3 separate regions of the Homo sapiens genome follow, and regions 1 and 3 are each linked to region 2. The links come from fine-mapping of genetic effects on gene expression. A gene starts in region 2. Each other region holds a variant in brackets. All regions are shown on one strand. Distances are between the middles of the regions. Region 1 overlaps BCO2 (beta-carotene oxygenase 2). Region 2 holds the start of BCO2 (beta-carotene oxygenase 2). Region 3 has its middle 32 kb from the start of SDHD.

Evidence for each region.
Region 1: its variant is fine-mapped to the expression of BCO2 in gastroesophageal junction (GTEx, PIP 0.97).
Region 3: its variant is fine-mapped to the expression of BCO2 in whole blood (TOPMed, PIP above 0.99).

What each region holds. Positions count from the first base shown.
Region 1 is chr11:112,203,694-112,213,984 of GRCh38, forward strand. It overlaps BCO2 (beta-carotene oxygenase 2), which reads left to right. Exons shown (of 12, transcript NM_031938.7): 9 at 10,031-10,168. It also overlaps the pseudogene MRPS36P4. Among named protein-coding and RNA genes, the nearest start is that of PTS, 18 kb to the right of the region's middle. The variant T/C (reference allele first, on the strand shown) is at 5,968.
Region 2 is chr11:112,171,872-112,182,119 of GRCh38, forward strand. It overlaps BCO2 (beta-carotene oxygenase 2), which reads left to right and starts at 3,641. Exons shown (of 12, transcript NM_031938.7): 1 at 3,641-3,818; 2 at 7,407-7,611. The coding sequence starts at 3,731. TEX12 (testis expressed 12) reads left to right here. Exons shown (of 5, transcript NM_031275.4): 5 at 1-685. The coding sequence ends at 45. It also overlaps the pseudogene KCTD9P4. RefSeq lists a silencer at 6,002-6,168.
Region 3 is chr11:112,113,848-112,124,138 of GRCh38, forward strand. No RefSeq gene overlaps it. Among named protein-coding and RNA genes, the nearest start is that of SDHD, 32 kb to the left of the region's middle. The variant T/C (reference allele first, on the strand shown) is at 5,022.

The DNA of each region.
Region 1 (10,291 bases), 32 kb after region 2:
TTGTTCATACTACATATCTACTGTTTGGTATCCTTTGAGCTACATCTTGTCTTTGCCTTCCCCTCCCCTCTGGTGGTAACCACTGTTTCATTGTCTTTCTCTGTGTATTTGAGATTTTCTTTAAAAAATTCCACATAAAAATGAGATCATGCAATTTTTTTTTCTTTTCTTTTTTTTTTGAGACGGAGTCTCACTCTGCCACTCAGGCTGGAGTGCAGTGGCGCGATCTCGGCTTACTGCAACCTCTGCTCCCGGGTTCAAGTGATTCTCCTACCTCAGCCTCCCGAGTAGCTGGGACTACAGGCACATACCAACATGTCTGGCTAATTTTTGTATTTTTAGTAGAGACCAGGTTTCACCATGTTGGCCAGGCTGGTCTCTAACTCTTGACTTCAGGTGATCTGCCTGCGTTGGCCTCCCAAAGTGCTGGGATTACAGGCGTGAGCCACAGCGCCCTGCCTCATAGAATATTTTTCTTTCTGTGTCTGGATGTTTCACTTAACATAATGTCTTCCAGGTCCATCCATGTTGTAGCAGACGTCAGGATCTCCTTTTCTAAGATTGAGTAATACTCCATTGTGTGTATATATCACATTTTCTTTATCCATTCATCTGTCAATGGGTATTTAGGTTGTTTCTGTTTCTTGACTGTTATGAATAATGCTACAATGAACGTAAGAATGCAGCTATTTTCATGAGGTGGTGATTTCATCTCATTTGAGTATATACCCAGGAGAGGGATTGCTGGGTCATATGTTGTACAGTTGACCCTGAACAACATGGATTCGAACTGCATGGGTCCTTATATGCAAATTTTCTTCTACCTCTCCACCCCTGAGATAGCAAGACCAACCCCTCTTCTTCCTCCCCCTCAGACTACTCAATGTGAAGACAATGAGAATGAAGACCTTTATGATGATCTACTACCACTTAATGAATAGTAAATATATTTGCTCTTCCTTATGACTTTTAGTAGCATTTTATTTTATTTTTTTTGAGACAGAGTTTTGCTCTTGTTGCCCAGACTGGAGTGCAATGGCGTGATCTCGTCTCACTGCAACCTCCGCCTCCTCAGTTCAAGCAATTCTCCAGCCTCAGCCTCCCGAGTAGCTGGGATTACAGGCATCTGCCACCATGCCCGTTGTATTTTTAGTAGAGATGGGGTTTTGTCATATTGGCCAGGCTGCTCTCGAACTCCTGACCTCAGATGATCTGCCCACCTTGGCCTCCCAAAGTTCTGGGATTACAGGCTTGAGCCACCACACCCAGCCTTTAATAACATTTTCTTATTTTCTTTTATCTGGTTTGCTTTATTGTAATAATACAGTATATAATACATATGAAATACAAAATATGTGTTAATTAACTGTATGTTATTGGTAAGGCTTCCAGTCAACAATAGTTTATTAGTAGTTAAATTTTTGAGTAGTCAAAAGTTATGTGTGGATTTTCGACTATGTAGGGGGTTGGCACCTCTACCCCACTCCGTGTTGTTCAAGGGTCATCTGTATTTTTTATTTCTTTAGGAACTCCTATACTGTTTTTCATAATGGCTGTACCAATTTATATTCCCACCAACAATGTACTAGAGTTCCCTTTCTTCTACACCCTTGCCAACATTTGTTATCTCTTGTCTTTTTGATAATAGCCATCCTTATGAGTGTGAGGTTTTATATAGTGGTTTTAATTTGTATTTCCCTTATGGTTAGTGATGTTGAGCACCTTTTTATATGCCTATTGGACTTTCAAATTTTATTTTATTTTTTATTTTATTCTTTTAGGGACAGGATCTCACTCTGTTGCCCAGGCTGGGTGCAGTGGCATGATCATAGCTCACTGAAGCCTCAAACTCCTGGGAACACGTGATCCTCCTGCCTCAGCCTCCCAAGTAGCTGGGTCTACAGGTGCGTGGCACCACACTCAGCTAATATTTTAAAAACTTTTTTGTAGAGACAGGGTCTTATTATGTTGCCAAGGCTGCTGTCAAACTCCTGGGCATGCATGATCCTCCTGCCTCAGCCTCACAAGTAGCTGGGATTACAGGTGCATGGCACCACACTCAGCTAATATTTTTAAAACTTTTTTGTAGAGACAGGGGCCTTGTTATGTTGCCAAGGCTTTTCTCAAACTTCTGGGCTCAAGTGATCCTCCTGCCTCAGCCTCCCAAAGTGCTGGGATTACAAGTGTGAGCTACCACACCTGGCCTCTATTTTTGGAGAAATGACTGTTCAGGTCCATTGCCCATTTTTTATTTATTTTTAATTAATTAATTAATTAATTTATTTTTAACTTTTAATTAAAAAGTAAACTTTAATATTGAAAATGCAAACTTGGGGAAGACAGAAAAGATCACACACAAGGCTGTCACTTCACACTTGGAAGGTTGCGCAGCGGCCAGGCAGAGGCGCTCCTCACATCCTAGACGGGCGGCAGCTGGGCAGAGGTCCTCCTCACTTCCCAGACAGGGCGGGGGCCGGGCAGAGGCGCTCCTCACATCCCAGACAATGTGGGGGCCAGGCAGAGGCGCTCCTCACTTCCCAGACAGGGCAGCGGCCGGGCAGAGGCGCTCCTCACTTGCCAGAGGGTGGGCGGCTGGGCAGAGGCACTCCTGGGGCGGCAGGGGCGGCAGCTGGGCAGAGGTGTTCCTCAGTTCCCAGACGGTGGGCGGCCGGGCAGAGGCGCTCCTCACTTCCCAGACGGGGCGGCGGCCGGCTTTTCCCATTTTTTAATTGGGTTATTTGTTTTTCTGGTATTGAGTTGTAAGAGTTCTTTATAAATTTTGAGGCCAGGTGTGGTGGCTCACGCCTGTAATCCCAGCACTTTGGGAGGCCAAGGTGGGAGGATTGCTTGAGCCCAGCAGTTCAAGATCAGCCTGGGCAAGATGGCAAGACCTCATCTCTACAAAAAAATTTAAAAATATACAAATTTTGAGTATAATTCCTTATTGGATATGTGGTTGCAATTTTTTTCCCCAGCCCATAGGTCGCCTTTTCGTTTTGTTGATTGTTTCCTTTGCTGTGCAGAAACTTTTAAATTTGATGTCAACTTGTCAGTTTTTGCAAGGAAAAAACCTGATACAATATTGCAACTGTAGATCAATTTGGAGACAATTGACATCTTTACAATATTGAGTCTTCCAATCCATGAACATGGAATATCCCTCCATTTATTTGGGTCTTTTAAAATTTCTCTCAGTAAAGTTATAGTTTTCAGTATAAAGATACTACATTTCTTTTTGTGTGTTTTGAAATTATTGTAAATGGTATCTTTTAAGCTTTCATTTTCTGTTTGTTGCTCTTTATAGAAATGCAATTGATTTTGTATATTATCTTCATATCCAGAGATCTTGCTAAATTCACTTATTAGTTCAAATAGTTGATCCACAGATTATTTTGGATTTTCTATGTGCACAGTCATGTTACCTGAAAATAATGACAGCTTTCTTTCTAATACTTAGGGCTTTATTTCTTTTTCTCGCCTTACTGTACCAGCTAGGACTTCGAGTTGAATAGAAGTGCAAGATAGTGAATAGAAGTTGAATAGGTAGTGTTGAAAAATGTTTAATAATTCATTATTAAATATAAAATTGCTATAGGTATTTTTCTAGCTATCTTTATCAGATTATCCTAATAGTGCCTTTTAATGAATAAACATTCTTAACTTAATATGGCCCAGTATACAGTCTCTTCCTTTATGACTTATACGTTGTACATCTTGTTTTAGACATCTTCTCATGGCAAGGTAATGAAAATATTATCCTATGTTATCTTCTAGAGAAGTCAAGTATCTGTATATGCATTATTCTGTTTCTGGACTGTATATTCTGTTCCATTGTTTCTACTTATGGTTACTTGTGCACTGCATTAAAAAAGTCTTAAGGTTTAGTGTCAAGTTATCCTAATATTTTTCTTTTGAAAAGAGTGTCATGGCCATCCCTGGCCCTTCACGTTTTTGTAGAAATTTTAGAATCAGCTGTCAGTTCCCCACACAAAAATATGGTCACATTTTAATTCTATTTGCACTGAACCAATGTATCAATTTGAGAGAGGACTAACCTCTTTACACAATGTTGAGTCTTCCAGTACGTGAACACAATATATCTTTCCATTTATTTGAGACTTCTTTAATTTCTTTCAATGTTTATAGTTTTCTGGTTACATATTTTCTGCATCTTTTGTTAGATTTATTCCTAGGTTTTTTTTTTACATTATTTTAAATGTTGTTTATTTTTTGCTTTCATTTTATGTTAGTGTTGCTATATAGCAATTTTTTTTTTTTGAGACAGTGTGACGGTCTCACTCTGTCACCAAGGCTGGAGTGCAGTGGTGTGATCTCAGCTCACTGCAACCTCTGCCTCCTGAGTTCGAGCAATACTCCCACCTCAGCTTCCTGAGTAGCTGGGACTACAGGCATGTGCCACCATTCCTGGCTAATTTTCATATTTTTTTGGTAGAGATGGGGTTTCACCATGTTGGCCAGGCTGGTCTTGAACTCCTGACCTCAAGTGATCCACCCACCTTGGCCTCCCAAAGTGCTGGGATTACAGGAATGAGTCACCGCACCTGGCCGGCAATTGATTTTTGTTTGTTGATTTTATATTCACTAATATAGTAATTACACTTACAAATTCTAATAATTATAGATTCTTTTAGATTTTTACATCTATAATATCATATGCAAGTAATGATAGTTCCTTTTCTAACTCTACATGTAAGCTGTATATTGGCTTTTTTTTTTTTGTCTTATTTCACTGGATCTTCAGTACAGTGTTGAATATAAGTGATGATAATGGCATCCTTAACTTGTTCCCAATCTGAGAGGCAAAGCTTGCAGCATTTTACCATGAAGCATGCTGTGGCTGTAGATTAAAAAAATATAATAGAAACTGTCCCTTCTCGGGGGTCATGATGGGCAGCAAGATGCATCTGCTAGCAGTGTCGTTCAGGTAGTCAAGCCACATGCTCCATTAATAAGCTTCCCTGCTGGAAGAGACAATCCTAAACCCAATGTACCAGAAGCTCTGAGATCAGCAGGGCAACCATCTCACGATTCTGCAATTTCCCAGCATTCTAAGGGAAGTAAATTACTGGATTTGTGGATGTACCAGACACTGCAGAAGTAATGAAAACATTACCTCAGAAATATAGAAGTAAACTTGTGTCTCAAGAAGAAATTGAATTTGTCCATTGTGGAGATCCAGAATAATCACTGTGGCTGCTGTTTGTCATCAGACAAAAGAATTACCTTTACAATAAAGGACTTCCAAAAAAAAATAGACTGTTTTTTAGAGCAATTTTACTTTTAAAGAAAAATCAAGCAGAAAGTATGGAGAGTTTCCATATTTCCCTCTCCTGCTAATGGTACATTTGTTACAACTGATGAATCAATGTAGGAGTGTTACATTATTACTAACTAAAGTCCATACTTTACATGATGGTTAGGTCTGTGTTGTACAGTTCTACCGGTTTTGAAAAATGCATAATGTCATGTATCTACCAATATCATACAGAATAGTTCACTGCCCTGAAAATCTCCCTGTGCTCCCCCATTCGTCCCTTCCCCTTTCCTCCTCTCAGCCCCTGGAAACCACTGATCTTTTCACTATTTCTGTAGTTTTGACTTTTCCAGAATGTCACATAGTTGGAATCATACAGTATGTAGACTTTTCAGACTGACTTTTTTCACTTAGCAATATGCATTTAAGGTTCCTCTGTGTCTTTTGTGGCTTGAGAACTCATTTCTTTTTATCGCTGAAATGTGTATTCATTCATTTATTGAAGGACATCTTGGTTGGTTCCAATTCTTGGCAATTATGAATAAAGCTGTTATAAATATTTGTTAGCACGTTTTGTGTGGACAACTTTTTAAAAAGATACATTTTATTAGATTAGGAGAGTTCCCTTTTACTCCTAGTTTACTGAGATTTTTTGTCATGAATGGATGTTGGACTTTATCAACTGTTTTTTT[T/C]CTGCACTATTGAGATAATCATATAACGTTTATCCTTTATTCTGTGAACATGGTGAAGTACATTGACTGATTCTTTAAAAAATGTTCATAACAGCCATTGATTGATTTTTGAATGTTAAGCTACCCTTCCATTCCTGAAGTAAATCCCAATTGGTCGCATTTTATTTGCTTTTAAATATATTGCAGGATTTGCTTTGTTACTATTTTGTTTAGAATTCTTTGTATCTATGTTCATGAATAAAATTGCCCTTTAATTTTTTTCTTTTCTATAATGTTCTTACTAGGTTTTGGTTTTGTGGTTTTTCTAGTCTCATACAATGAGTTGGGAATTGTTCTCTGTTTTCCTTCTTTCTGGATGATATTGTATAGGATTGATATTATTTCTTAAATATTTGGAATAATTCAACAGTAAAGCCTTCCAGACTTGAAAATTTCCTTATAGGCAGATCTACAGTTCTAGAATATTGATTTGGTTCTCTTTTCCAATTTATAGTTCTCTACCACAATTCTCAGTTTAAAATAATTTCCTTAAACATATTTAGAATAGTTAAAGTCTGATAACTAGTATCTGGATCTTCTGTGATTCTGTTTCTGTTATCTGTTGTTTATTTTGGTTTTTAATCATGTTGCCTTGTCTTTTCATGTGCTGGTTATTTCCTTTCATTTGCAGAATATTGTGTTTTAAAAATTGTGGAAATATTTTGAGACACAAGATGATGTTATTTTCCTCTAGAGAAGAATTTCACTTGCTTATATAATTTGAAGCAGGATTCAGTCCATGCAAGAGCTGGACTATTTCTTGTTTATTCTTATTCATAGGGTACAGACCTATGAGGTCCCAACCCAAAGGACTAGAGGTTTACTAGGCCTTCCTCTTCTTGGAAAATCGTAAATTCAAACTTTTGTCACTCTAGCCCTCAAAACTATTGAAAAGCCCTTCTCTTTAAGGTTAAGGGGTAAGTGAGTTGCTATGGCTATACCCTTATCAAAAAGTAGCGTGAAGGATCCTTGTGGTGATGGATCTGTTCTGTATCTTGAGTGGCGTGGTGGGTACATGAATTTACACATGATAAAATAGCATAGAACTAAATACACGCACACACACACACACACACACACACACGAATGCATGTTAAACTAGAATAAGGTTGGTGGATTGTATCAATGTAAATTTCCCAGTTGTGATATTATATTATAATTATGCAAGACATTCCTACTGGCAAAAAAGGATGACGAATATATGGGAAATCTCTGTATTATTTCTTTTTTTATGGTGTAGAAAGTATATATATATAACATTAAATTTACCATTTTAACCATTTTAGGTGTTCAATTCAGTGGCATTAAGTAAATTCACAATGTTGTGCAACATCACCACTATCCATTTCCAGAACATTTTCATCATCTCAAACAGAAACTCTGTACCCATTAAACAATAATTCCCTGTTCCCCCCACCTCCAGTCCCTGGTAACCTCTATTCTACTTTCTGTTTCTATGAATTTGCCTATTTTAGGTACTTCATGTAAGTGGGGTCATACAATACTTGTCCTTTTGTGTCTGGCTTATTTCACTTAGCATAATGTTTTCAAAGTTCATCTATGTTGTAGCATGTATCAGAATTGCATTCCCTTTTAAGGTTAAATAATATTCGATTGTATACACACACACACACACACACACACACACACACAATATTTGTTTATTCATCTGTTGATGGATACTTGGGTTGTTTCCATCTTTGGAGTATTATGAATAATGCTGCTATGAACATTGGCATACAAATATCCAAATTCCTTTTTTTAGTTCTTTTAGGTATATATCTAGAAGTGGAATTGCTAGATCATGTAATTCTGTGTTTAACTTTTTGAGGAACAACCAAACTATTTTTCTACGGTGGCCACAGCATTTTTCTACCATCAGCAATGCACAAGAGTTCCAGTTCTTCACGTTTTTACCAACATTTGTTATTTTCTGGGTTTTAAAAAAATAATAACCATCCTAATGGGTGTGAAGTGATATCTCATTGTGGTTTTGATTTGCATTTTCCTAATGACTAATGATGTTGAGCATATGTTTAAGTAGTTAGGGAAAAACTTGCCCCAGTATCCAGTTGGTTTCTGTGGGTTTCCTTTTCATCCCAAACCTGGCCCCTTTGTTCTTCACTGTCTTTTTAGCTCACCAGTGCCTTCAGGCAGCTGTTTTAAACATTTTGTCCATAATTTCTAGTTGTTTTCAATGGGGTAGTTGATCCATATAATGTAATCTACCATTATTTGAAGCGTCTTTTGGGTTAGCTATGGTTTTGCAAGAGAAAACAATTGTAAATATAATTAAAAGTCATTTTTAAAAAGTTGGTAACTTCTGAAGCCATGGTGACCTTTTATAAAAAAAAAAGCTAATAACTTTATGAATCTTAAGAATAGCACTAAATCTTTACTCACTAAAAATATTTCTGCATGCTACAGAGATCATATAGACTAGGTATATGGGAGGAAATGGTGCAGTTTGTTCTCCATCCTACAGTATTTCAGAGAGGAAAATGGGCTTAAAGCACTTACTGTCAGGAAAAACACACTTACTTTATTTGGGTCTCCTGCTTAAACATCATCTCTATGGAGAAGCTGTGTTGGGAGTTCCCAGGATCACCCCTAGGTTTGATAATTCATTAGGAGGATTCATAAGACTCAAAATAGGTCAGGCGAGGTAGCTCACGCCTGTAATTCCAGCACTTTGGGAGCCCAAGGCAGGAGGACTGCTTGAGCCCAGGAGTTCGAGACAAGCCTGGGCAACATAGTGAGATACCATCTTTATTAAAAATTTTTAAAAAGACTCTATATAGTCATACTCATGACTCATGATTACAGTAAAAGGATACAAAGCAAAATAAGCAAAAGGAAAAGGCACATGAGATGAAGTCTAGAGGAAACCAGGTACATGCTTCCAAGAGTCCTTTCCCAGTAGAGTCACAATGGACATGCTTAATTCCTCCAGGAACTAGTGACAACATGTGTAAAATGTTGTCTGCCAAAGAAACCCACCCAAGCCTGCTTGTCCAGGGTTTTTATTGGGGATGAATCATATAAGCATAAAACCCCTACATGATGACCCTCAGTTACTGATGTTCCAGATCCTCAAGGGAATGGAGGTGTTCATTATAAATCACATTGTTAGCATAAACTATCTGGACAAACTACTGCAGAGTCACTTAAGGACTGGCACATGCAAGAACACTCTTATCAGACAGAACATCCCAAGAGCTCAGTTCCCAGCAACCAGCCCAAGGTCAGTCATGAAAACAAGTCTTTCTTGAAATAGTGCAGGGTTTGAGCAACCCAGGCTTACTAAGTTGATCCTTTTCCACACAGAGGTCTACCTGATCAAATCTGAAGAAGGAAAGCACCCTTTGTTACTCTCTAGTTTCTTACTCTTTGTTATATAATCATTTGTTTATTTGATGCTAATTAAATAACTTTTTTTTTTTTTTTTTTTTTTTTTTTTTGTGACGGAGTTTCACTCTTGTTGCCCAGGCTGGAGTGCAATGGCATGATCTCGGCTCACCGCAACTTCCACCTTCCAGGTTCAAGTGATTCTCCTGCCCCAGCCTCCCGAGTAGCTGGGATTAGAGGCATGAGCCACCATGCCCGGCTAATTTTGTATTTTTAGTAAAGACAGGGTTTCTCCATGTTGGTCAGGCTGGTCTTGAACTCTAGACCTCAGGTGATCCGCCTGCCTTGGCCTCCCAAAGTGCTGGGATTACAGGAATGAGCCACCGCACCTGGCCACAAATATTTTATAATTTTTAAATTTCTTTATTATCATTCCTCCACTAGAATATAAATTATATGAGGCCAAAGACTTTGCTTTATTCATGACTGTATCTCCAGTGTCTAAAACTGCTTGGGCTATAGTAGGTACTCAACAAATATTAAGTAGATGAATGAATGGAAATTATCATTTATTTAAATATTTAGGAATGCCAATGATGTTGACTGGATCTAAATTATTGGGACATACTGTTACCATATGAATGACAATTTTCATCTCTTTCTTCTTCCCAAACAGGTCCATAATTCAGCAGCCAAATCTTTCCCTCGAAGGTTTGTTTTGCCTTTAAATGTCAGTTTGAATGCCCCTGAGGGAGACAACCTGAGTCCATTGTCCTATACTTCAGCCAGTGCTGTGAAACAGGCTGATGGAACGGTATGCTATGAACAGACATTAGACTAAGACTTTGAACTTTAATGGTGTTACTTTATTCTTTAGCTGTTTTCCAAAATGTCTGGTACCCAATAACTTTTATAACATTCATCCGAGCAGGTTAAG
Region 2 (10,248 bases):
CTGCGACAGAGGTTTACAGTGATTGCAAACACATTACACAGATAAAATATATACTTGAAATAAGCTGAGAATTTAAACCTATTATTGTTATAATGAAAGAATGACATTTATGCTTTGAAAGCTCTCGAGTTGTTAAAGAAAATGTATATCTCGAATAGAGAAGGGGAAACTCCTTGAATTTCTAGGTTTAAAAAGGAACTTTTAAATTCCTTAATGTTAATATTAATGTTCATGTTAATGTCCTAAGCTGGCCATTAACATGAACTACGTCACTTTTCTTTTGAGGGTCAAATATTTAGTGCATTTTATAGAAGTGTAAATTATTTAAATCTTATGTGGATTCTTTTATTTTTTCCTTAAACTTCTTAGTGTTTCTGAAACTTCTAAAAAAGGATTCAGTTAATTTATAATGTTTAATAATATTATACTTTTAGAATATTTTGTTTAAATATCAGATAGTTTTGGAGATAATTTTGAAATTTTTTTTATGGTCAGGATTATAAAAGAAGATTAAAACCTTAGAGGTGATTTTTCCAGTTTCTTAGAATATAATGACATAACTGTGTGCTATTTCCATTTGATTATTTTCACTATTAGTTATTATGTATGACTAATAAAAGCTCTCGGCTTAAAATTATTTTCTTGTGGTAAAAGTAGTAAAATAAAAACCAGAAATTACTCACCAGAACCTTGTATGAGTTGGCTTTTTTACACATCAACCACATCAACATGTGCAGTTAATGAATTATATTTAGAAACATTAGCAGCAGTGTGGTATGGGATAAAGATTAGTGATCCAGAAGTAAATAGATTGGCTTAAACAACAAGATGACTTTGGGAGGTCACTTCAATCGTATTATAATTGAGAAATTGAATTTGGACTGGAGGATCTATACTACTCATCTAGCTAAAAAAATTATCCCTTTAATGTGAAGTACTGCTATGATTTTACTGAAAACTTTCTATGTTATATATTACTATATGGGATAGCTATATTAACCAGATTTTTAAACAAAATAGCACCCATTTTTCAATCATATAGGCAGTTCAGTTTATTACATGTATATTTTTCCAATATAAGCAGTCAGAAAATTGCAAATAGTACTACAGGGAATTGTTATTCCTAAGGGAGACTGCACATTTGCCTTGCTGCCTTCTAAACTCTAAAATAAAATCTCATTTTATCACATTACTATTTTAAGGCATAAACACCACATGATGTAAATACTCATATAAGAAAAGATGACAAAAGTGAAATAAAATAATACTTGCTAAAGAAAATTGGTTAAGTGGAAAAAATTATTGGGTTGATAGAGGTGGTGGCACAGAATAGGTTGGAGGTCAACAAAGTAATTATTAGAAATGAATTTTTTTCTTTTTTGCCACTTGCAGTGGCTCCCATTTCTAATCCTAGCTACTTGAGAGACTGAAGTGGGAGGATGGCTTGAGCCCAGGAATCCGAAGCTGCCGTGAGCTATGATTGCATCACTGCACTCTAGCCTGGGTGACAGAGTGACACTCTCTCTAAAAAAAGAAGGAAAGGAAATTTTTTCAATTTTTTCTTTCTTTCCTTTGCTTTTTTTTTTTGAGACAGAATCTTGCTCTGTTACCTAGGCTGAAGTGCAGTGGTGCGATCTTGGCTCACTACAACCTTTGCCTCTTGGGTTCAAGTGATTCTCCTGCCTCGGCCTCCTGAGTAGCTGGGATTACAGGCGCCTGCCACCACACCCGGCTAATTTTTGTATTTTTAGTAGAGACGGGGTTTTGCCATGTTGGCCAGGCTGGTCTCGAACTCCTGACCTCAGGTGACCCACCCACCTCAGCCTCCCAAAATGCTGAGATTACAGGCATGAGCCACTCGCCCGGCCAAAAGGAAATTTTTTAAAACTAAATACAACAAGAAGATTTGTGAGTTAATACGACATGTCATCTGGATTTCGACCTACCATCATTAAGAAATGTTCTTTTTCTAAGCATTTATTACTAATATGAAAAATAAGGCCAACAGATTGTTTGAGACTAGATTTCATAATATACTTGTTATATCCTGATGGTATCACCATTGTTTAACATCTAGTTCTTCCCTTTGCAGGTTCAGTAAATTGATTTGATCATTTCATTTGATATGATTAAGACTGGAGAACTGATTTTAAGTCACAATGTGTTTACTGTTCAGCACTGTTCAGAATTGTTATACCTTGTAGTATAAAGGTGCCTGAAAGCCTAATCATGAAGGCTTATTTATTTATTTTTTTATTGATCATTCTTGGGTGTCGAAGGCTTATTTTTTAAATCAAATTTGGATGGCTTTGGTACCATCCACGTAGACAAGAGTAATTATCTTGGCCAGGCATGGTGGCTCACACCTGTAATCCCAGCAGTTTGAAAGGCTGAGGCAGGCAGATCACTTGAGGTCAAGAGTTCGAGACCAGCCTGGCCAACGTGGCAAAACCCTGTCTCTAATAAAAATTAAAAAAAGTAGCTGGGTATGGTGGCGTACACCTGTAGTCCCAGCTACTCAGGAGGCTGAGATAGGAGAATCACTTGAACCCGGGACACAGAGGTTGCAGTGAACCGAGATTGTGCCACTCTACTCCAGCCTGGGTGACAGAGTGAGACTCTGTCTCAGAAAATAATAATAATTATTATTATCTCACAACTGGAGAAATGCTATTGCAGGAATACTATTGCCCTTTAATTTACACTTCTAATGTTACTCTTTACTATTTCAATAAAATATCACAAATTTATAAGTTATTTTTCATTGATTACTAATCAAAATATATACCGAACTATCTTCGTACTCTGCTATATGTATTAAGACACTCCCTTCTGACAATTTTAACCACTTCTTTCTTGAAATACAATTTTGCTAGGAAAACATGATATGTTAATGTTAAAAGCAACTCTGTGGCAGTGCTGTGGGAGTTACTAGAAGACCTTTTGGTAAGGGAGTCAGAGAGGTAGATTTTAAATTGGATTTTTGAAAAGGAAAGGGGATATTTCAGGCAGGGGAAAAGTTTCTTCAGTGGCACAGAAGAACAAACGTATCATGGTATGTTAGTCACTTTGCTGGGATGATAATTCATGAAGGGGAATAGTGTATGGTCTAAACTGGAGAGCAGGGACAATCTTGTTTCTTGGTATTCTTACTTTGTAGCACAGTATTTGCTACATTGGTGCTAAAAATGTTAATAAAGTCATATACATTTTAAGGGCATACTTTCACTCATGCTAGATTGTCAGAAAATGTTCTGTAAAATTAATGAATAGAAAAGAAAAGGAAGGATGAAGTGATTTAAAGGCAGAGAAAAAGGATGAAAGGTAAATTGTTGCCAGATTGTAGCGTCCTCTAGTGGCAGTCTAAATTCGGACTTTATTCTGTGTCGGAATCTTCCAGAAGAGGAGTGGCATAAAAAAATTGATGCTGTGCATCAGGATAAACGGACTTAACTGTAGTGTGAGAACAGGTTTGAAAAAGAAAAGTTTAGGGCGGGGGAGACCACTATTGGTGGTCTAATTTTAATATTTCAAACAGCTGCGTATTATAGCTAGGGTGTTTGGACGGTTGTCATGGAAATAAGCCCCGCCCCTTAAGCTGCGTCCTCTCTTTGACCTGTCAGTGAGGGAGGGACAGTCCAGGCAGTTCTGTGCGTGTTCACTGTTTAGTAGTACTCAAAACTGCCAGTGTGAGAGGATTTGGAAATCACTGGATCTGCTCAATACAAAAATGTTTTTTCGAGTCTTTCTCCATTTTATCAGGAGTCATTCTGCCACTGCAGTGGATTTCCTTCCTGTGATGGTGCACCGGCTCCCAGGTAGAGGGTTTGCCCCTTTCTCTTCCTCATCCTCCTCTTCTTGCCAGTCTGCGCTTAGAATTCTGTGCCTCTTTCCTGAAGGTTGCTGGGAGCTTCTGAAGCTTTGTGTCCTGTGTGGCTCAGATGAGATAGCAATTCCGCAGAGTCCTGGAAGTTAAAGAAGGCTGAGTTAGGATTGTTTCCTCATGGTCAGGGAAACAGCCTTCACATTTGTATATTTTATGCAATATTTAAGGCAGGATTCAGGGACTTGGTATTCTTTGGGATTTGCAATAAGAAGAATATTCAATATTTAGGCTTTTCTAAATTGAAAAATCACTGCCACACGTTCTAATGTAATTGTTTGGTTTCTCTATTTGCATTTTGCGGGGACTGCCTTAAAACTCATTTATGTTTTATAGCCTTCTATTATAGTTACCATTGTTACATGATTTTATGTATAGAAATTGGCTGATCTAGAGCTTTCAGAAATCATACTAATATGCACTATAAATTTTAAAATTACTTAATGTAGTAATTTAATGTTTGCAGTATGCAAGGGAATGTATTACGTACTGGAAGGAGAGAGGAGACAAACACCAGACCCTGTACTCAAGGAGTACTGGTAGTATCATTTATCATACAAGACAGATAAGATAAGGTCCATATGAGAGCTATAAACAGATGCTGTGAGTTCAGACTAAGGAGAATCAGTTCTTGCTGTAGGTAAGGGGAATGCTGTGTTTATAAAGCAAATGACATGGCAACTGGATCTTGAAGGATGAGTTAGGTGAGTAAATTTCATCTGAAGGAGTTGGGAAATATCCTAGATGAAGAAAATTGATTGGCGGGGGGGGGGGAATTAAACATTCTATTTTGACATGTTGAAAGTCACCTGCAAGAAGTAATTGATGAAATTAAGAGACTAGATGAGATTGCCAAGGGAGAGTGCTGAGATTAAAGATCCAAGGTAGGACCTTAGGAACATTCATGAAGTGGTAAGGGGGATAAGGAGCCCATAAAGGGAATTAACATTTGGAAAGCATCCACTATCTTTATATTTGATTATGACAACAGACATAAACAGGAAGTATTAACCTCCTTTTATTTCCATTTTATCATGGAAAAACCTGAGGCTCAGAGACATTAAGTAACTTGCCCAAGGTTGTCAGCTAATAAGTAATAAAACTAGCAGAATGCAGAGAGTAGTTATAGGGCAGCAGGAAAGTTAGAATAGGACAATGTCTCAGAAGCTACGAATAGAAAGGAGTTTAAGAAAGTGTTAATGTCAAATTCTATGGAAACTTTGAAGAGCATGTAGCAGATTACCAGTAGCATGCAATAGAGTATACAACATATAGACATGTAAATATTTTCTACAATGTAAAATGCTTTAAATTTGTGTATCTCTACTTAGACAAATGCCCAATCAGGCCATTCAATTTACTTAAAAAAGTAAGATGAGTAAAATTACATACCTGACCTTAGGGAATTTATTTTAATCTGAGAATAAGATAAATGGTGCATAATGTTAATAAAAGTAGAGTAACATAAATACCTGAGAGTTTCCTTCTCTATCTTTTCAAAGCATCCTCTTTGTACTTCTGATACTGTAGTTCCCAGATTTTAGTATGCTTAAGAATACCTGCTTGTCCTTCCCCAGAGATTCTGATTTATTAGGACCAGAATGGAGTCCAGGAAACTGCATTTTAGCAGTAACACCAGGTATTTCTGTTGCAAGTAGTCCTCATACCAGACTCTGAGAAACAATGCTGAAATAAAACACAGTGTCAGTGATCTGTTTACTAGGCAGTCAGTTCTTTTATTTCAGGATTCTAATGCTTTTTATTCTCAGCAGTACCAAGTACTTCGTCAACTGAATAAAATAAAGGAGATATTACACCTTATTGGACTGATCATTAAAAGCTATGTAAATATAATAATAGCATTTTTTGAGTATTCTGTTCTAAAAGCTTTACATAAACTAACTCATTTATTACTTATAGCCTTAGAAGTAATATGAATTATCATCATCACCATCTTAGAAAAGAGGAAACAGACCACAGAGAGGTGATAAGTGCCTTTCTCAAGCCTTCTTATTTAGGAGAGGGCATATTTGAAACCAACCAGTCTGGAGCCAGGTAGAGCCCCAGCTCACACCCTTAAATATTACACTGTGCTGCCTCTTAAGGGAAGTACTGTAACACTGGAGATAGACCTTGACCAATTAATGGAATTTGCTTTTTTTTTTTTTTTTGAGACGAAGTTTCGCTCTTGTTGCCCAGGCTGGAGTGCAGTGCTGCGATCTCGGCTCACTGCAACCTTTGTCTCCTGGGTTCAATGCGATTCTCCTGCCTCAGCTCCTGAGTAGCTGGGATTACAGGGGTCGGCCAACACACCCGGCTATTTTTTTTTTTTGTATTTTTAGTAAAGATGGGCTTTCATTATGTTGGCCAGACAGGTCTCGAACTCCTGACCTCAGGTGATCCACCTGCCTTGGCCTCCCAAAGTGCTGGGATTACAGACTTGAACCACCGTGCCCCGCTGGAATTTTCTTAGAACTAGAGAAAAGGACATTGGGAAAGACATTCAGGGTGAAAGAGAATTTTATTTGAAAAATCAGTAAAGAATTAGGTTTGACTCATTTGTTACATGTCATATAGGGGAGTAGAATGTCTCGTGTGCTTCAAGCTGAATTTTTGAAAGATTTGAAAGAAATGGGATAGTAACAACTTGCTAAAAGAATGCAAATCTCACTTCTTCAGAGTAATAGTGTCCCTATATGTTAGCTCATTTTTCTAGCCTAGATTTCTGAATCACTCTTAAACTTTTATGAGATAAAGAATTCTATTTTATAGCACTTAATTATTTATTTGACCACCCCTCTATGTTAGGCAGTACTGCCTTGTGAACACTCAGTAATGTTAAAATAATAGGGAGAAGTTTCAGTTCCTTATTATACAACTATGATTTTTACTTCTTGTGCCTTTTGCACTTTAGGTAATTTCAGACTGGATATCACTGCATAATTTAATTTTTGACACCCTTCTACTGGAAAATGCCTTGTATTTTCATGTATATGCCATTAAAATAAAAGGAATTAAATTTAAGATCTTATTAAATTCACAGGAATCGCTATGAAGTCTTTGGAATCACATTCTGGTATATCTAAATTACTGGGGTCAATATAATTGGATAATATTGAATGGTGGTCATTTTTATAACAACGAGGTTGCTCTTAGCACATCTGGGGTTGGCATGTAGATTTATTCTTGTAAAAAGACAGGTATTGTTCAACTATGAGAAATGATAAAAATAGTAATTGAAGTCCTAAGTTAGTTCTTAGGCAGATTAGTAGTCCTAAGTTAGTTCTTAGGCAGATTAGTACTACAAAAAATAGAAGAATTGTTGTGGGTTGAAAATGGAGAACCAAAGCGTTGATAGTCTGGGAATGAGGAAGGAGAGAGAAGAAATTTGGAGCCTGTATTTGGTGTTAGGTTTATGTTTCCCTCAAGCTGCCAGTTGATAAGATTATTGTCTGTGGGAAACAGGCAAGTTTATAGAAGATTTGGTAAAATATTTTTTGTGCTTTTGGTTTCCTCTGCACAGTTTTCAAAAGGTACATGGGAAATACTCCTCAGAAAAAAGCCGTCTTTGGGCAGTGTCGGGGTCTGCCATGTGTTGCACCGCTGCTGACCACAGTGGAAGAGGCTCCACGGGGCATCTCTGCTCGAGTCTGGGGACATTTTCCTAAGTGGCTCAATGGCTCTCTACTTCGAATTGGACCTGGGAAATTCGAGTTTGGGAAGGATAAGTAAGCCTTGATTTTGGAGAACAACTTGGATTTCTTGGCATGGGCTGGTTCTGTGGAATATGCATTAATATCTGCTTCCTCTGTGAGGTTAATATTTCCATTCCATCCCTTTGATTACAGATAAAGAAACTGTAGCCTAGAGGAGAAGAAAGGAGACTTTTTAAACAAAATGTCCTGCTTTTTCTGCTCTGTAGACTATTGTAAATTTGAAGCCCTCTGTGGTTTGTACCAAAAGAAGAGAGGTGTCAGAAGCTGTCAGTGTGGTGACTGAGCTGTTTCCCCACAAGTTCCTGAAGGAAGGGCAATGTCTCCTCATACCACTCTCTCCCTCACCCAGCACTTGCCAGACACATGGTCTTTTTCAGTTCCTCAAACTGGGCACAGTTGTATCTTCTCAGCATCTTAGCATTAGTTCTCTCACCTATGTTCCCTAATCTTCCCAAGACTGGTCTTTTCATTCAGATGTCAACTCAAATCTCATGTCCTTTGAGCCTTTCCTGATCTCCCAACATAAAAATGCCAGCACAGTCATCCCTCAGCATTCACAGGGCATTGGTTAGAGGACCCCCTAAACACCAGAATCCAAGTATGCTGAAGTCCCTTATATAAAATGCTTTTATTTGCTTTTAACCTACATATATCCTCCCATTATCTTTTAAATCATCTCTAAATTACTCTATAATACTTAATACAATGCTTACACATACTTCATTCCCATGGATTTGTCTTAGTACTCAGCAAATTCAAGTTTTGCTTTGCAGAACTTTGTGGCATTTTTTTCCCACAATATTTTTGACTCAAGAGATTGGTTGAATCCACAGATGTGGAATATATGGATATGGAGGGCTGACTGTATTAATTATAATTACCTATTTTAATTCTCTACACAGTGTTATCAGTGTCTGGTATTTTTTATTTGTTATTTGAGTGTTAAGCTCTGTTCCCCCACTAGAATGTAATTTGATGAGGGTAGAGACTTTTTCTAGTTCATCCTGTATCCCCACTACCTGTAACAGTGGTCTGCACCTGAATAGCATTCAATAAATCGATGCCAATAAATGAAAAACCCAGGCAGGCTGAGGAGCCTAGAAGCAGGGTGGGAAGGAGGACTGGCTGAGCCCTGGGTGTGGGACAGAGTGCATGTGTGTGGTGTGTCCCCAAGGGCAGAAAGGTGGCGAAGGGAGGCGAATCCAAGTGGGTGGAGGGGGGGAAGGGCGGGAGGAGAAAAAGGTGGGAGGAGGACCAGGTGGGAGGGTGGTGGCCCACTCAGGACCCAGTGGGGGCAGCGTGATGAGGCGGATGACCCTGTTCCTGAACGGCAGCCCCAAGAACGGAAAGGTAGTTGTTGTATATGGAACTTTATCTGATTTGCTTTCTGTGGCCAGCAGTAAACTCGGCATAAAAGCCACCAGTGTGTATAATGGGAAAGGTGGACTGATTGATGATATTGCTTTGAACAGGGATGATGATGTTTTGTTTGTTTGTGAAGGAGAGCCATTTATTGATCCTCAGACAGATTCTAAGCCTCCTGAAGGATTGTTAGGATTCCACACAGAGTGGCTGACATTAAATGTTGGAGGGCGGTACTTTACAACTACACGGAGCACTTTAGTGAATAAAGAACCTGACAGTATGCTGGCCCACATGTTTAAGGACAAAGGTGTCTGGGGAAGTAAGCAAGATGATAGAGGAGCTTTCTTTTTTTTTTTTTTTTTTTGAGACGGAGTCTCGCTCTGTCGCCCAGGCTGGAGTGCAGTGGCGGGATCTCGGCTCACTGCAAGCTCCGCCTCCCGGGTTCACGCCATTCTCCTGCCTCAGCCTCCCAAGTAGCTGGGACTACAGGCGCCCGCCACTACGCCCGGCTAATTTTTTGTATTTTTAGTAGAGACGGGGTTTCACCGTTTTAGCTGGGATGGTCTCGATCTCCTGACCTCGTGATCCGCCCGCCTCGGCCTCCCAAAGTGCTGGGATTACAGGCGTGAGCCACCGCGCCCGGCCGAGCTTTCTTAATTGACCGAAGTCCTGAGTACTTTGAACCCATTTTGAACTACTTGCATCGTGGACAGCTCATTGTAAATGATAGCATTAATTTATTAGGTGTGTTAGAAGAAGCAAGATTTTTTGGTATTGACTCATTGAACACCTAAAAGTGGCAATAAAGAATTCTCAACCACTGGAGGATCATTCACCAATATCCCAAAAGGAATTTGTCCGATTTTTACTAGCAACTCCAACCAAGTCAGAACTGTGATGCCAGGGTTTGAACTTCAGTGGTGCCGATCTTTCTTGTTTGGACCTTCGATACATTCACTTCAAAATGGCCAGTTTAAGCTGCTGTAATCTTGCACATGCAAATCTTTGCTGTTCAAATCTTGAACGAGCTCATCTCTCTGGATCAGTGCTTGACTGTGCAAATATCCAGGGAGTCAAGATGCTCTGTTAATGGGAGAAAATTTTTGCAATCTACCCATCTGACAAAGGGCTAATATCCAGAATCTACAAAGAACTTAAACAAATTTACAAGAAAAAAATCAAACAACCCCATCAAAAAGTGGGCAAAGGATACGAACAGATACTTCTCAAAAGAAGACATTTATGTAGCCAGACACATGAAAAAATGCTCATCATCACTGGCCA
Region 3 (10,291 bases), 58 kb before region 2:
AAAACTGTTGGGCAGAAAGTTTGGGGAAACTAACCAGAATTCAAGTGTAACCCTGGTGTGATTTAGAGTTAGGGGAGAGAACAAGGAAAATCTTACTAGGGCTCCATTTTTAAAAAATCACAATTCCTCATGTAGTAGATTAGCTGAGACTAACAGAAAACCAGGAAATAGAAGCAAAAGGGAGATGCAGCTTCAGCAGAGCCGAAGTACACCAAGTGAAAAATGGCTAGAAACTGGGAATGAGGCTGGGACACATGCACATGACCTGCCCTCCAGATAGAGACTTTATTTGTTTTGACTGATTGATTGACACAGGTTCTTGCTCTGTCACCTGGGCTGGAGTGCAGTGGCACAATCATGGCTCACTGTAACCTTGAACTCCTGGGCGCCCGTGATCCTCTTGGCTCAGCCTCCCAAGTAGCTAGGGCTACAGGTGCACACCACCACGCTGGGCTAATTTCTGTATTTTTTGTAGAGGTAGATCTTGCTATGTTGCCAAGGCTGCAGGTACAGATTTTAAAGGAGGATTCAACCATCCAGCTATCAGACAGAAAGCAGAACCAAAGGAAATCCTCACTCACTCTGCTTGGTAACAAACACTGAATCTGAATAGCTATCACCCTGTTCAAAATTGAGCACGGAGAAAAAAAAATCAGCATGGGACCTATTAAAAAAACAAAACAAAACTATAAAACAAGTGAAAGAAAAAAGTATAATAGAGGTTCAGAAGTTTTGCATAGGTCCAAATGATTTTTTGCGGAAGCCAGGAAAAAGTTCTAGGAAATTGTTGGGTATCTTAAGTGGAAGTGAGTGAGTCATGAGCTCTGTAACAGAAGAAGATGAAGGTAGGCTAAGATGGAAGATAAACTAGGTGTGATGAAAGAGGAAAAAGAAAAGGAAGGGTTGAAAGGAAATGAAAAACACAGGATAAGGAGTAAAAAAGCAAAATTAATTCTGTCAAATTAAAATTAGCAAAGGAAGACAAATGTAAATAAATTTCTCAGGCCAGGCACGGTGGCTCATGCCTGTAATTCCCGCATTTTGGAAGGCCGAGGCAGGCGGATCACCCGAGGTCAGGAGTTCAAGACCAGCCTGGCCAACATGGTGAAACCCCCGTCTCTAATAAAAATACAAAAAATTAGCTGGGTGTGGTAGTGGGCACATGTAATCCCAGCTACTTGGGAGGCTGGGTCAGGAGAATCGCTTGAATCCAGGAGGTGGAGTTTGCAGTGAGTGGAGATCGCACCATTGCACTCCACCCTGGGCAACAGAGTGAAACTCCGTCTCAAAATAAATAAATAAATAAAAATAATAAATAAATAAATTTCTCAGATGCAGAGGATAAAGACAAAGACCAAAAAAAATGCTCACGAAAAGACAAAGATGCATATTCAAAAACATTCATCAACATTGTTACTTCTGATAGAAAAGAAAATCGAATCAAGCTAAATGTGTAACTAGAGGACCAATTAAATAAATTGTAGGATATTCATACATATAAGGTAGGTTTCCTTTTGGCTGCAAGCAGAAGAATACACACCCACTATCTCCCATTAAAAGAGTACTACCACAGAATCGCTCATAGAAAAAGATGTCTGGGTAGGCAGGTCCAGTTTTGATGCAGCGGTTAAGGATGTCATCTCAGACTAAAGTTCTTTCTGCCTCTCTGTTCTCATCCTCAGCATGTTGGCCTGTCACTTTTAGGCTCGTCAATTTGTGGTCACAGTACAGCTGGAATGGCTTCAAGTACCACATTCTCCTTTGATTGATTCAAAGGCAGGAAGCAGGGTTGCAGGTAGGGCAGTAAAAGCCTTGGTCGTCAGAACATCTTTTTCATCATTCCCTGCAGACTTCTTTTTAGAGTTCATTGATCAGAGCTGGCACATTTGGCCACCTCTTGCTGTAAAGGCTTAGGGAAACGAGTGTCTGCTGTTCTCAGTCTCTGCATTAACAAGGGAGAAAGGGGCTGGGGATGGCCTCTGGGTGGTCAAAAATATAACATGAGTACTCCATTGCTATTCAAAATGATATACATCAATCTTTGACTGCATCTCTGATTATTTCCTTAAGATAGAGTCTTGAATAGGAATTTCTAGGTAAATCATCATGAGCCTTTAAAAAGTCCTGGTTATGTCATGCAGTTGATTTCCAGAAAGCCAACAGAAATAGATATGTGTCAACATGTATATCTCCTGATGCCCGCACCAGTACTGAGTGAAAAACTTTGCTGAATGTTCCTGTTTGTCTGAACTTAAAAGGAGCACATGCATAGAACAAAGAGCCAGCATTTGTTAAATAGCAAAGATAAGCTCATCGAAACTAAGATAAAATAGGCCAGGCACGGTGGCTCACACCTGTAATCCCAGCACTTTGGGAGGCCGAGGTGGGTGGATCACTTGAGGCCAGGAGTTCGAGACCAGCCTGGCCAACACGGTGAAACCCTGTCTCTACTAAAAATACAAAAACTATCAAGGCGTGATGGTGCACATCTGCAGTCCTAGCTACTCATAAGGCTGAGGCAGGAGAAACACTTGAACCCAGGAGGTGGAGGTTGCAGTGAGCCGAGATTTGTGCCACTGCAATCCAGCCTAACCAATAGAGTGAGACTCTGTCTCAAAACAAAAAAAGGAAAAAAAGCCTAAGATAAAGCAAGAATGTTTCCTGTCCTCCCTCATTTCTGTTTAACAGAGATACTAACCATAGAATCATTGGATTCTTAAAAAAATGAGGAACAAATATAGGGAAAAAATAACAATACAGCAGGATTTTTGGATGACATGATCATAATTAGACCATGCAAGTAAAAAAAAAACACCTAAAAATCTATAAGGGAAATAAGGGGGGAGTGGAGAAATAGAAGAAATGAGATAAGCAAAATGTCGATAATTGTTGAAGCTGGATGATGAGTATTTGTGCAAGTTTTAAACTTTTTATAATAAAAGTTGTTTTTCCAATCTTATTGTGTTAAAATATAAATAACATAAAATTTACCATCTTAGCCATTTTCAAGTGTACAATGCAATGGTATTAAATACATTCATAATGCCATATGACCATTACCACCATCCAGCTCCAGGACTCTTTTCACCTTGCAAAACTGAAATGCTGTACCCATTAAACTCCCCATTTCCTCCTCCTTCTGGTCTCTGGCAACCACCATTCTACTTTATGTTTTTATCCATTTGACTATTCCAAGCCTTATATAAGTGGGATCATACAGTATTTGTCTTTTTTAGACTGGCTTCTTTCACTTAGCATAATATCCCAAGGTTCATCACATTGTAGTGTATGTCAGAACTGCCATCTGTATTAGTCCATTTTCACACTGCTGATAAAGACATACCCGAGACTGGACAATTTACAAAAGAAAGAGGCTTATTGGACTTATAGCTCCACATAGCTGGGGAGGCCTCATAATCACAGTGGAAGGCAAGGAGGGGCAAGTCACATCTCACATGGATGGCAGCAGGCAAAAAGAGCTTGTGCAGGGCAACTCTCATTTTTTAAAGCGTCAGATCTCATGAGACCCATTCACTATCATGAGAACAGCAGGGGAAAGACCTGCCCCCATAATTCAATCGTCTGCCGCTGGGCCCTTCCCACAACGCACAGGAATTGTGGGAGCTACAAGATGAGATTTGGGTGGGGACACAGAGCCAAACCATCTCACTATCTGTTTTTTTTGTTTTTGTTTTTGTTTTTTTGAGACGGAGTCTTTCTGTTGCCAGGCTGGAGTGCAGTGGCGCAATCTTGGTTCACTGCAACCTCTGCCTCCTGGGTTCAAGTGATTCTCCTGCCTCAGCCTCCTGAGTAGCTGGGATTACAGGCACAAGCCACCACACCCAGCTAATTTTTGTATTTTTAGTAGAGACGGGGTTTCACCATGTTGGCCAGGATGGTCTCAATCTGTTGACCTCAGGTGATCCACCCACCTCGGCCTCCCAAAGTGCTGGGATTACAGGCGTGAGCCACCACACCCGACCTTTATATATATATACATTTTTTTTTTAATCAACACAAATATTTTAAAATACCATACACTTAAAAGGAAGTTCAATTCATATCTTAGACGTCAGGAATAAAGGAGTGGCACTTTCTGTTGTCCACCAGTTTTCCTGTTTCTAATCTGAATATTCTTTCCTAAAAAGATGGATGTGGGCCAGGTGTGGTGGCTCATGCCTGTAATCCTAGCACTTTGGGATGCCAAGATGGGCAGATCACTTGAGGTCAGGAGTTTGAAGCCAGCCTGGCCACCATGGTGAAACCTTATTTCTACTAAAAGTACAAAAAAAATTAGCCAGGTGTGGTGGTGGGCACCTGTAATCCCAGTTACTTGGGAAGCTGAAGTAGGAGAACTGCTTGAACCTGGGAGGCGGAGGTTGCAGTGAGCTGAGATCACACCAGTGCACTCCAGCCTGGGCAACAGAGAGAGACTCCATCTCAAAAAAAAAAAAAAAAAGAAAGATGGATGTGACAGATGGTTGACATAGTATTAAAGGTGCCTCCTGAGCCATGACTCAGCTATGTTGGTGGCCCTGCTAAATTTGTGGCCAGGGCACCTCCTCCCTTTCCCCCAAACTGGTTTCATCTCCCTCGAAGCTGGTTTCTCTCCCTCAAAGCTACTACTGCAGAATTAGGGGCTTATTTGGTATGGGTTTATTACTTCCTGTGACTTAGAATCTTGGAGAATTCAATACTTTTTAATTTAGCTTCTTTGTTTTATCTAATAAGTTTAGTAGATTAAAATATTCTTCTGGCCAGGTCAGGGTCTAACCACTATAGGGTATCTTCAACTCAATGTACATTTTAACCGAAACACACTCAGCATCTCACCTAAACACGATCAATATGGGCCTCTATTGTATCTTTTTCCAAGGTAATATGATCCTGACAATATTCTCTGGAAAAATTTCACTCATAGACTAACCCATATTTTTGTTTTTCCTCATTCCCACCCTCAAAGGTAATATGAATGCAAATAAAATTTAAAAGAACCTCCCATGGAGAGGAGACATTGCCAT[T/C]TTCCATGAGGTACAGAAGCCCACGTTTCTGAGTTGGTGGACACAGTGGCACAAGTAGGAAGTTTTAGTTTTGAGGGTTCCTTTCTTCTCCCTCTTCACGTCAATGTACTTTGGTTGTCTAAAATGCGTTGAAAGCCTTATTTTCTGTACTTTATGTCTCTCACAATGTCATCTAAAAACATTAATTGGCATTACAACATTAATCTTGCTTTTACATAATTTTAAAAAAATTAATTATTTTTTTTTCTTTTGAGACAGGGTCTTGCTCTGTTGCCCAGGCTGGAATGCAGTGGCACAATCACAGCTCACTGCAGCCTCGACCTCCGGGGCTCAAGCCATCCTCCCACCTCAGCTTCCCAAGTAACGAGACTACAGGTGTACACCACCATGCCCGTCTAATTTTTTTTTTTTTTTTTTTTGTAGAGATGGGCTTTCACCATGCTGTGTCGGCCATTACCCAACTCCTGGGCTTAAGTGATCCACCTGCCTCAGCCTCCCAAAGTGCTGGGATTACAAGCCTGAGCCACCGCGCCCAGCTGTTAATCGTGACTTAATACATGTGCATCTTCCCCTGTTTCCTGTGTTTGCTTTCATAAGTCCACTGCTCCTGCTGTGAAGATGGGTACATTCATCTGTCATAGCTTAATGACACCACCTTAAAATTTGCAGATGGGTTCATATACATCTTATTATTCACTCACTCATATATTAAAAAATATTTAAGTATCTACTATGTACCAGGCACTGTGCTGGGTCCTGGGGATACAGAGATGAAAAAGATACCAGGAGGCTGGGCGTGGTGGCTCACGCCTGTAATCCCAGTACTTTGGGAGGCCAAGGTGAGTGGATCACTTGAGGTCAGGAGTTCGCGACCAGCCTGGCCAACAGGCTGATGGTGAAACTCCATCTCTACTAAAAATACAAAAACTAGCCGGGCGTAGTGGTGCATGCCTGTAGTCCCAGCTACTTGGGAGGCTGAGGCAGGAGAATCGCTTGAACCTGGGGGAGTGGAGGTTGCAGTGAGCCAAGATCGTGCTTGGGCGACAGAGCAAGACTCTGTCTCAAAAAAAAAAAAAAAAAAAAAGACACCAGAAGCTCACAGACTTGATGGACAGGCACATAAGCCAATAAAATGTGTTCAAAGCAAACTTCTGATAATGGCTTGGTTTCTAAAGAGACTTTTTTTAAAAAACTGGGAAGTCAGGATATTGACTAATGGACACTGGAATTTTGTTCATTTGACAGTTTTATTGTGTGTGTGTGTGTGTGTGTGTGTGTGCATAAAAAATGAATACATTTATATTTTGGCTTATGTCCTATGTCTTAAGAGCATGGCTAGCACTTAATCTTTAATACGGGTAACTGGACAAATGTAAGGTTGTGACCCTTAAACTTGAACCCCATATGCATTCCCCCCTGGCGATCACACCAAGGCTCAGACAAGCAGGGCAGTCTGGTCTGGTCCGTCGACTGTCCTCTTTCTCCTTCTCAACATATAGAACATCCCATTGGTCACAAATGCTGGATAAATGAAGGATTGCAAAAGCTCAAACTTTTTTCTTTTTTGCTTGCATTGATGTTGTAATTAACACATAGGAGCTGAGCTTTTTCCTGTGCTGACTTGTAATTTTGGCATCGTTCAAACTGGAAACGGGTTCTAATGGTATCAGTGTTATTTCCTGGGCAATAAATATCTAAAATAGAGAAGTGAGTCATAGGCCCAATGAAACTTATGAACCAAGATTAGTCACGCGGATAGTGGAGCTGCTTAACATCAATATAACTTTCTCTTCAGGTCGTTTCCCACAAAATTGGGTGGAAAAACCCACTCCTATTGCTCAGTTGGGCAGTTGCAACGATGAGCTAAATCAATTGTACTCTGGCAGTACTGTAGTAATAGCTGTAGTTTAAAAAATCACGGTAGTTAATCCACTTTGTTTCAAACTCTTCTATATGCTTTAAAAGGTATGAATTGGCAGGGCGCGGTGGCTCACGCTTGTAATCCCAGCACTTTGGGAGGCCGAGGTGGGCGGATCATGAGGTCAGGAGATTGAGACCACGGTGAAACCCCGTCTCTAATAAAAATACAAAAAAAAAAAAAATTAGCCGGGCGTGATGGCATGCGCCTGTAGTCCCAGCTACTAGGGAGGCTGAGGCAGGAGAATGGCATGAACACAGGAGGCGGAGCTTGCAGTGAGCCGAGATCTCGCCACTGCCCTCCAGCCTGGGCGACAGAGCGAGACTCCGTCTCAAAAACCAAAAACCAAACCAAACCAACCCCCCCCCCAAAAAAAACCAGAAAACAAAAAGGTATGAATTATTAGGGATATAATATCCAATTAAGAAGAAAGATGTTAAAAAATGACTCAGAACTATGGCAAAAACTATTCTATTTTGGAGGTGTTTTGAAATTAATTTTAATTTATGGGTGTTTTGGAATGAAGCAGTCCTGTCCTCTCAAAAAGCAAACAAACAAACAAAAGGGCATTGTGATTTTGATTGCTTTAGAATGTCAGTAGGACTAGTTAGTCAAAGTCTATTTCTAAAACATACCTCCTTTTCGTCATTGCAAAGGAGAAGTACACTTTACTTTCAAGGCTGACTTTGGGCATTGAGAACACAGAAAGATGATTTCCTACATTCTTAGCTAATTAATTTTAAGTGTAGCTGGAAGCCTGGTGAGGCAGAACTTAAAGAAGATGCTACTTCTTGACTTTTAAGCAGAGGCAGCAAATCACTTACAGTAAAAATTACTCAAGGAAATCACTCAATTGGCTTTTTTTGCTATGGAATTGTGACTTTTTTCCTATAATGCCCTAGGGAAAGAATATAACTGTACCTCCCTTCCTTCCAATTTCTTCAATGTCCATAGCTTTAAAGAAGAGGTCAAAATTTTGTATAAAGGACTCAAGAACCTCTCGAAAGGACAAGCTCTAAGAGTCCAATCTCTTACCACTCTCAGCGTCAAGGTTAGGGCACCTTCATTGGAAGGAAACTGCACGGTCCAGTTCTAGACTTGGGGGCAGATAAGGCCAGGAGTTCCAGTTTCCTGCCATAAAATTACCACAATGGCTGGAGATGAAACCAGCTTGACGGCCCCTGCACTGGCGAAGGCAGCAGGAGAAGGGCACAGCTTTTGGCATGTGAAATGGCTGGTGCTGGAAGCTGGCCTTACCCAGCTGTCTTGGGGCAGACTTACCTCCTGAGAAAGTAACTATGTCCACAGAGCTGTTGTCTTGAGAACCCCTGACTGAACTAACGGTGAGACATGAGCTTGTTTTTTTTTCAAGGAACTCTTTAGTCTAGACTGTTGCAGCAAGTGGAAAGCCCCTTAGACCTTCTTGGGACATCTGTGACCCTAGCTCCTACAGTGACCCTTCCAGGAACAACCAGTCTGGTGGTGATGGGGTCATCTTTTGGCCTCAAATGCCAAACAAGCTTGAGCCTCTCTTTCCCCGTCTTCTGACACTTAGACTCACAAAGGAGCCTGCAAGCCTAAGGGGGATGAAACTGCATGCCTTTGGAGATGAAACTGGACTTGTGTGTGGGCGCTGAGCATTAAAGGTTGGGAGGTGAGGGTGTGTGCAGTTGGATATTATAATAACCTCAGTAATGATTCACACATGTAAGGCAAAAATAAGAAGCTCAATTCTTCCTGTTAAAAATAAAGGATGCCAGGCATGGTGGCTCACGCCTGTAATCCCAGCACTTTGGGAAGCCGAGGGGGATGGATCACAAAGTCAAGGAGTTCAAGACCAGCCTGGCCAAGATGGTGAAACCCTGTCTCTACTAAAAATACAAAAAAAAAAAAAAAAATTAGCTGGATGTGGTGGCAGGCGCCTGTACTTCCAGCTACTCGGGAGGCTGAGGCAGAGAATTGCTTAAACCTGGGCGGAAGAGGTTGTAGTGAGCCCAGATGGCGCCACTGCACTCCAACCTGGGCGACAAAATGAGACCCCATCTCAAAAAAAATAAAAATAAAAAATAAATAAATAGATAAATAAAATAAAATAAAATAAAATAAGGGATGAGACCTGCCCTGGTCCCTTTTCTTAGAGTATTTACTTTAGAAAACGTGTAAGTTCTCTTCAGAATACATAAAATCCTTGTAAAATTTAAATACGAATTTTGCTAGCTTTACAACCCAGGAATGTCTTTCTCAAGGACCCAGGAGCCATCTCTTCTGAATGTAAACTTCCAGGGAAAATCATTTCCCTGTGTCGCAGTTTTTGTGAGAGTGTAGGAGCCTAGCTTCGGCAGGTGCCTGGCACCCAGTGGCAAAACTCCCTGCTGCCAAGAAGATAGCAGAAGTTTCTTTTTCCTTTGTATTAAACCAAGTGACTAACACAGGTGGTCACCCCTGTTACCAGGTGAATTTAGGATGAACGATGTGTTATGAATGGCGCTGTCAAGTCCTCTTCCTTGGACTGATGATTGTTTATCTTGAGAACACGTGTGTAATGGATTGCGTCTGTCTGGCTGTATGAAAGGGTGAGATTTATTTCTGCCTTTGCAATCTTTTAGTGAATTGCTTGGGATGTGCATCACTTTCTGGTTTAATGCTTATTCAATAATAAGTGTGTTTTCTTTCTCTTCCTTTGTGGAGAGATTTACTGGGTTGAGAGAAAAGTTTATTTTTAAGTATATTTCCCCAATTACACTAATGCCACAACTCAACAATATGTGAAAAAAGGAAAATTTATATTGACTTGAATCCTTCAGAAGACCTGACTTTTAACAAATTTATTTTGTCAGACTTTACAAGAAAATGGCCTTTTTTTCCTTTTGTCTCTTCCTCTCCCCCTCATTTTATCCAATTTTCCTATATTGCCTGTCTCTCTTTTATCCTATTAAAAGACCACTCTTAAAATAAGATAAAGTCACGATTCTCAAACAGATGTAAAAATGAACACGTTAAAGATTTTATTCTATTCACTTAATCTATGAGAGAATCAGGAAGCTGTTGCAACCAGTTCAGAAGATAATCTGAAGAACAGACACATTTATAGAGAAGAAATATTGAAATAAATGGGATGGAGGCAAAACTGGTTTTCAGAAGGAAGGAGGGAAGTCAATGGCTCTTCCACTACACAGGAGAGAACTGCATGTCTATAGACAAGAATTATTTTGGATTGTTATCAGTTCTATACAACTTAAAGAATAGTAAAATAGCTTCAGCAGAATTGGAGTCAGATAATTAGAGGGGCCTCCTCAAGACCATGCATAATATAATTTTCCACTAAAGCATAAAAGTTCTCCTACAATCTTCT